2 linked regions of the Homo sapiens genome follow. The protein of the gene in region 1 purifies or fractionates together with the protein of each later gene. This does not show direct contact. Each region holds a gene or a part of one and is shown on either strand. Other genes may lie near its edges.

Region 1 (3,915 bases):
CATGCCACCACGCTAGCTAATTTTTGTATTTTTTAGTAGAGATGGGATATCACCATGTTGGCCAGGCTGGTCTTGAACTCCTGACCTCAAATGATCTGCCCAACTTGGCCTCCCAAAGTGCTGGGATTACAGACATGAGCCACCCTGCCTGGCCTTCACATTTTCTTTAGATTATTTCTTAGAATGTCTACTTCTCTGTTCCCATTATCAGTCTGTAATCTCATGTTGTCCACTTTTTCCATTAGAGCCCTTAGCATATTAATCATAGTTGTATTCCATTTCTTGGTCTGATAATTCCAACATCTCTGCCATATTTAAGTCTGGCTCTGATGTTTGCTGTGTCTTCAAACTGTGTTGTTTTTTATTATGCCTTGCAAGTTTTTGTTGAGGGCTGGTCGTGCTCAACCAGTAAATGGACTTTCTGTGTGAAGTTTTATGTTGGTCTGGTTAGGGGTTGCGCCATGTGTTCTGTTTGTTAACTGGAGGTGTCAGAGGCTTAAACCTCCTCTAGTGTCTTAGTTTTTGTCTCCCTGTTGCCTTTACGGTTTCCTAGAGATTTCTTGAATAAGCTCTGAGATGAGCAGTTCTTTCACTTGTATCCCCTGTTATTATACAGGAGCCCCGCTGATGTGGCAGTAAGATGTGGGGAAAGGAGAGCCAGAGCAGGCTGGGGTTAGCTATGTTCCCTTCCTCCAGGTTTGCTGGTATCTGGCAAAATTATGATTGGCCTGGCTGTGATTTTTTTTTTTTTTTTGAGGGCAGGCCTTGTAAAAAAAATAAGACTTCTTTTTATTTTTATTATTTTTAAATTTATTTATTTATTTATTTATTTTTTGAGACACAGTCTCACCCTGTCACCCAGGCTGGAGTGCAATGGCGCGATCTTGGCTCACTGCAACCTCCACCTCCTGGGTTCAAGTGATTCTCCTGCCTCAGCCTCCGGAGTAGCTGGGATTACAGGTGTGAGCCACCGCGCCCAGCCTCTTATTTTTAGGCAGCATCTCACTCTGTCACTTAGGCTGGAGTTCAGTGGTGCCATCATAGCTCACTGCAGCCTCGACCTCTGGGGTTCCAGCAATCCTCCCGCCTTAGCCTCCCGAGCAGTTGGGACTACAGGCGCAAGACACCATGCCCGGGTTTTTTTTCTTTTAATTTTTTAGAGACGGGGTCTCACTTTCCATTCAGGCTGGAAAGGATGCCTGGATGCCTTTTATTATTATTTTTTTAGACAGAGTCTCTGTCGTCCAGATTGGAGTGCAGCGGTGCGATCTCGACTCACTGCAACCTCTGCCTCCCGGTTCAAGCTATTCTCCTGCCTCAGCCTCCAGAGTAGCTGGGATTACTGGCTCCCGCCACTACACCCGGCTACATTTTGTATTTTTAGTAGAGTTGGGGTTTCGCCATGTTGGTCAGGCTGGTCACGAACTCCTGACCTCAAATGATCCGTCCGCCTCGGCCTCCCAAACTTCGGGGATTACAGGCGTGAGCCCCGGCGCCCAGCCCTGGATGCCTTGTAAATCACTACTCACCCAGGAAGAGCCAGCGACAGGCCCCGCCCCCGCCAACCGCCTCGCGCCTTCCGTCGCCCGGTTTCCATGGTGACGGGGCGCCAGGCTAGGGCGGCCTGGCCACTGAGCCGGGGTGCAGTGGCAGCGGGAGAGTACCTGGCGATGGCGATATGAGCGGTGCGGGGGTGGCGGCTGGGACGCGGCCCCCCAGCTCGCCGACCCCGGGCTCTCGGCGCCGGCGCCAGCGCCCCTCTGTGGGCGTCCAGTCCTTGAGGCCGCAGAGCCCGCAGCTCAGGCAGAGCGACCCGCAGAAACGGAACCTGGACCTGGAGAAAAGCCTGCAGTTCCTGCAGCAGCAGCACTCGGAGATGCTGGCCAAGCTCCATGAGGAGATCGAGCATCTGAAGCGGGAAAACAAGGGTGAGCCGGCGCGGGGCCCTAGGCCGGCCCTGCCTCCCCAGGCACACTCAACACTGCCGCTCCCGCAGCACAGAAACACAGCCATCAACTCCAGCACACGCCTGGGCTCAGGGGGAACACAGGACGGTAAGCCCGCCCTGCCACGCTGAGCTGTCCCCTCCTCCCAGAGGGAGACCCGCGTGGCCCCCGGGCAGTGCCGACCCTGTCTGCCTGTCTCGTAGGGCAGCAGCATTTCAGATGCTGACTCCGCCAATCCTCTCCTCTCCAAGCAGGGTCAGACACACCTCTGTTAAAAACTTTATAGAGGGGCCCGGGCGCGGCGGCTCACGCCTGTAATTCCAGCACTTTGGGAGGCCGAGACGGGCGGATCACGAGGTCAGGAGATCGAGACCATCCTGGCTAACACGGTGAAATCTCGTCTCTACTAAAAATACAAAACAATTAGCTAGGCGTGGTGGTGGGCGTCTGTAGTCCCAGCTACTCGGGAGGCTGAAGCAGGAGAATGGCGTGAACCCGGGAGGCGGAGCTTGCAGTGAGCCGAGATCTTGCGACTGCACTCCAGCCTCGGTGACAGAGCGAGACTCCGTCTCAAAAAAACAAAAACAAAAACTTTATACAGGGAAACGTGCCCAAGTGCGAGTGCGCAGCTCAATGAATTTCTTCCAGCTAAACACATCGGATCAGGAGCAGGCATTCCCCCGCCCCCCACCCCGTCCCCGCTTCGCCTGTGCCCATGCTGTCCTCCGGCGGGGCCTTCCCAACTGCACCCTTAGCTGCTCCTCACCCCCACGCCCCCCTTTCTCCCTCCCTCCTCCCCCACCCCTCCTGCCCCGAGCAGAAGGAGGGCCCGCCAGGATGTGGGATGTGGCTCCGCTCCTCGATCTTGCTTCAGGAGGGCTCCAGCAAGGGCACCAGTGCCCGCGGCCTCCTCTCCCGCCCCGTTCCCTGGTGCTGCCTTACCTGAGTGCCGAGTATCCCATCACCAGGCGTCTGTTTTGTCAGGACCCCGCTTCCCCATGTCTTCTTGAGCCTCAGGACGCCCAGTTCCTAATGTCTTCTTGAGCCTCCCCCGCAGTCCCTGATCCCCACGGGATCATGACACTGCCATAGCCAGGGGTTCCGGAGTTCACCTCTGTACCCCTAAAGCCCAGGCCCTGCCTGGGCAGTGTGGATGCCCTCCAGTCATCTCAGATGGATGAGGCCGATATGCCCGGTGGGCTCTGCCTAGGGAACAGGCAGGGCCATTCCTGGCCTGACACCCACGACGAAGGCGTGGTGGAGAGCGGGATCCATGGGGCAGGGCCCAATCAGCCAGTGGGGGGGCAGGACTTTTGGGCTCAGCAGCCAGGAGAGGACAGGCCAGGCTTCTTCTCTCAGAATAGCTGTGGTTTCACAAGTGCTGAGGAGAGCGTGTGCTTGCTTTCAGATCTCCATTACAAGCTCATAATGAATCAGACATCACAGAAGAAAGGTGAGAACTGGGCCCTTCAGTGACTGATGGGATGCTCTTGCCACCCAGGGGAGCCCCTCCAGACTGTCCTTGCCCACCTGGCTGCACTGGCCCCTGTATGCCAACCCAGTGGGTACAGGTTCTGGGGGACCTGGACAGATGCCGCTACCTCTAGCCGTGGCTGGACGATGTTATGCAGCCAAGCACAGCACGTGCTGCTCTCGGGAAGCCCAGGGCCTGAGGTCATTGCAGTGGGGAGGTGGGCACAGGGTGCTCCCCAGACCTCCCTCCTCCAAGTAGAGCTGAAATGGGAAGGAACCCCTGGGACAGCCCCTGCCCTGCTAGATCTTTGCCTCAGATTGCTGCTGTGGCCAGGCCCAGGATTTCCAGCCCTATGGCTCTGAGTCCTCACATGCTGGGGGCCCAGGGGCTCTGGACACACTCCATCCAGGGATCCCTTCCTGCCATCTGGGCAGCAACCATGGGGACAAAGGGAGGAAGCAGAGTCCTGTTTCCTTGCCACTTGTCCAAGGCACT
Region 2 (3,815 bases), about 19 Mb from region 1:
AATTATAGGCATGAGCCACTGCATCTGGCCATATTTTTCATCTAAATGGTTGTTTATGTATGATTTATCTTGCTTCCTTCATGAATTCTCTCCCATAGTCTGTGTATTAAAACTATAAATATCACTTTTATTGGCAATATAATCTTTTTTATGAAGTAGTCATAATTTGCTTGCTACTTTCTGTTATTGGGCATCCAAGTTTTCTCAACTTTTCCACTGTTAATAATCATACTCTGATAAAAACTTCAACAAAAAGTGTCTTCATTGCAAGTTATTTCCATAGAGATACCTAAAAACAGAATTACTGAGACAAAGGACATGAACATCTTTAAGTCTTGCAAATTGCCAAAATGACAGAAAGATTATACCTCTTCATGCTTCCAGAAGCGCATAACCTTTTCTTTTCTTTTCTTTTCTTTTCTTTTCTTTTCTTGTTTTTGAGACAGAGTCTCGCTCTGTCACCCAGGCTGGAGCGCAGTGGCGCAATCTCGGCTGCCAGGTTCAAGCAATTGTCTTGCCTCGGCCTCCCAAGTAGCTGGGACTATAGGCATGTGACACCGTGCTCGGCTAATTTTTTGTATTTTTAGTAGAGACGGAGTTTCACCATGCTGGCCAGGCTGGTCTCGAACTCCTGACTGCGCATAACATTTTCAATATTGACTTTCTTGTAGAAAAACAGATTTCTTTACTGTACCGATGGATTAATATAGTGGTGTTCCATTGCTTTAATGACTTAAAGCAAAACCCATTGTTTTGGGGTTTCTTATTAGGTTAGGTGTTCTTTATTTGGCTTTTGTCAGTTGATTTTGGTTTATTGAGTTCTAGTCAGTGTCATTTTTTAAGATGGACTTAAACATTCTTCATCACTACTATTTTTATTAAAATTTCTAGAAATAATCAAGTGAGAATGCATTTAATAAGAACATGAGATTTTGCCTAACATAGAATTCCCTCCAGCTTTGATATAGAAAAGCAGTTATATAATTAAGATATATATAATGTGAATTGTTTATGTTGGCAAAACTAATGGCACAAAGAAAAATTTCAAACCCTTAAGCCAATTTTTAAATTTTATTTCAGGTGCTATTCGAGCACATAATGGTAGTCTTCAGCATCTTACTTGGCTTGGCTTACAGTGGAATTCATTGCCTGCTTTACCTGGAATCCGAAAATGGCTAAAACAGCTTTTCCATCGTTTGCCCCATGAAACCTCAAGGCTTGAAACAAATGCGCCTGAATCAATATGTATTTTAGATCTTGAAGTAAGCAAAGATTTTAACAAATTAAATATTCTGAATTTTGTTTAATTTTTTTTTCTAACTTAACTTTTCCTTAAATGAAACAGGTATTTCTCCTTGGAGTAGTATATACCAGCCACTTACAATTAAAGGAGAAATGTAATTCTCACCATAGCTCCTATCAGCCGTTATGCCTGCCCTTTCCTGTGTGTAAACAGCTTTGTACAGAAAGACAAAAATCTTGGTGGGATGCGGTTTGTACTCTGATTCACAGAAAAGCAGTGTAAGTAGTAAAACAAAAATATTGCTTTCACTTAGTGCGTAGGTTTTACCGGGGATTTAATCCTCGTGTGAAGATTTAATTTGTCATGTGACCCATTAACATATATGTATGTAAGCGCTGAACTGTGTATTTAGAAAGCAATTTTAGTAAATTGAACTATTTTTTAGACCTGGAAACTTGGCAAAATTGAGACTTCTAGTTCAGCATGAAATAAACACTCTAAGAGCCCAGGAAAAACATGGCCTTCAACCTGCTCTGCTTGTACATTGGGCAAAATACCTTCAGAAAACGGTGAGTTTTAAAGTATAAGCATTTTTAATGAACATTACCTTAATTTTTTAAAATCATGAACTTTTTATTGAAAGTTTTTTTGTTCTGAAAACAGCAGCTTGGTCATATTATGACAGATGTGTTTTTTATTGCTGCAAAATAGTTAATGTAGTTAAATATAAGCACTTAGAGGAGCAATGCCTGGCACACAGTGAATGTTACATATTAGCTGAGCTGTTACTGTTATTCCTTAATAATTAAGTTCTGATAATTATTCAGCCTGAAAATTAAAAAAAAAATTAGCACAAGGCTTTGTAGGTAAGACCATTATAGATCTTTCTAAATATTTAAGGTGTGTTTTGTGTCACCATTAGGTGTAGATGGTCAGCCTTTTGAACAAACTGACACTACAGAAGAGGCAGGTTTCAGCTATCTAAAAAGGACAACTGTTAAAAAGTAGTTTGGATTGCTACGTTAGAGTGGTATCATTAGAAGCATTTAAAAGTTGAGTGTAGAGGCCGGGTGCGGTGGCTCACACCTGTAATCCCAGCACGTTAGGAGGCCGAGGCGGGCAGATCACAAGGTCAGGAGGTCGAGATCATTCCTGGCTAACACGGTGAAACCCCGTCTCTGCTAAAAATACAAAAAAAAACTCTACTAAAACTACAAAATTAGCCAGACATGGTGGCAGGTGCCTGTAATCCCAGCTACTTGGGAAGCTGAGGCAGGAGAATTGCTTGAACCTGCACGGCAGAGGTTGCAGTGAGTTCACTGGTATTAAGGTGGTTTAGTTATTACAGTATTTGGAAGTTGAACAAATGACTATTGAGGTACCATTTGGTTTTGACTTGAAATTTTAGCCAGTTCTTACAACTTGTAAATGAACTTTAGATCTAATCATGCGTGTTCCTTAAAGTTGTGTGCTTTTAACTTTCTTTTTTAGGGCAGCGGTCTTAATTCTTTTTATGGTCAACTAGAATACATAGGGAGAAGTGTTCATTATTGGAAGAAAGTTTTGCCATTGTTGAAGATAATAAAGAAGAACAGTATTCCTGAACCTATTGATCCTCTGTTTAAACATTTTCATAGTGTAGACATTCAGGTAACAGAGTTCCTTTATGAATTTATTGGAGATGGGAATTTCCAGTTTATAAACAAAGACGTGGAGCTATAAACTGCTTAAATTAATTGCCTTGTTATTTAACGGTAATCTTGTTTTCTAAATTCACTAGCTCTCACAGATAAGATATGACAGAGAAGAGTAATGAGATGTTTGTCTCTTAAGATCATATAAAATCTTTGGAAAATCATTTGGGTTTTATATTCTGAGTATAAACAATTTGACTAAAAACTATTCTATGTGTTTAGGCATCAGAAATTGTTGAATATGAAGAAGACGCACACATAACTTTTGCTATATTGGATGCAGTAAATGGAAATATAGAAGATGCTGTGACTGCTTTTGAATCTATAAAAAGTGTTGTTTCTTATTGGAATCTTGCACTGGTAAGTAGATGCAGTACTTGAGCTAAAAGTTGTATTTATTTATTTATTATTTTTTTTAAAAGACGGGGTTTCTCTGTTGGCCAGGCTAGAGTGCAGTGGCACAATCTTGGCTCACTGCAACCTCTGCTTCCCAGGCTCAAGCGATTCTTGTGCCTCAGCTCCCGAGTTGCTGGGATTACAGGCATGAGCCACCATGCGTGGCCAAGCTGAAAGTTTTTTGTTTTAAAAAGCTAATGATTTCATGAAAGCACTATTTGTATAGATTTTTCACAGGAAGGCAGAAGACATTGAAAATGATGCCCTTTCTCCTGAAGAACAAGAAGAATGCAGAAATTATCTGACAAAGACCAGGGACTACCTAATAAAGATTATAGATGACGGTGATTCAAATCTTTCAGTGGTCAAGAAAGTAAGTAGCAGGTTGTTGTATGTACGTTCTTACTGATAACCCACTGGTCAGTGTTTTTGCGTTGGTCTTATATTTTGGTAATTTCAAAAATACTCAGTAATATGTTGTT

The links.
Region 2: the proteins of CCDC74A (region 1) and RGPD8 purify together in Homo sapiens (affinity purification with mass spectrometry; one large-scale study listed by BioGRID and IntAct). This does not show direct contact.

What each region holds. Positions count from the first base shown.
Region 1 is NC_000002.12:131,526,293-131,530,207, forward strand, and holds the start of CCDC74A (coiled-coil domain-containing protein 74A), read left to right. Parts: upstream 1-1,595; 5' UTR 1,596-1,678; coding exon 1,679-1,928; coding exon of another isoform or gene 1,929-2,054; intron 2,055-3,354; coding exon 3,355-3,399; intron 3,400-3,405; exon of another isoform or gene 3,406-3,685; coding exon of another isoform or gene 3,686-3,915.
Region 2 is NC_000002.12:112,399,114-112,402,928, reverse strand, and holds part of RGPD8 (RANBP2-like and GRIP domain-containing protein 8), read left to right. Parts: intron 1-1,080; coding exon 1,081-1,262; intron 1,263-1,345; coding exon 1,346-1,521; intron 1,522-1,688; coding exon 1,689-1,812; intron 1,813-2,734; coding exon 2,735-2,893; intron 2,894-3,159; coding exon 3,160-3,297; intron 3,298-3,559; coding exon 3,560-3,706; intron 3,707-3,815.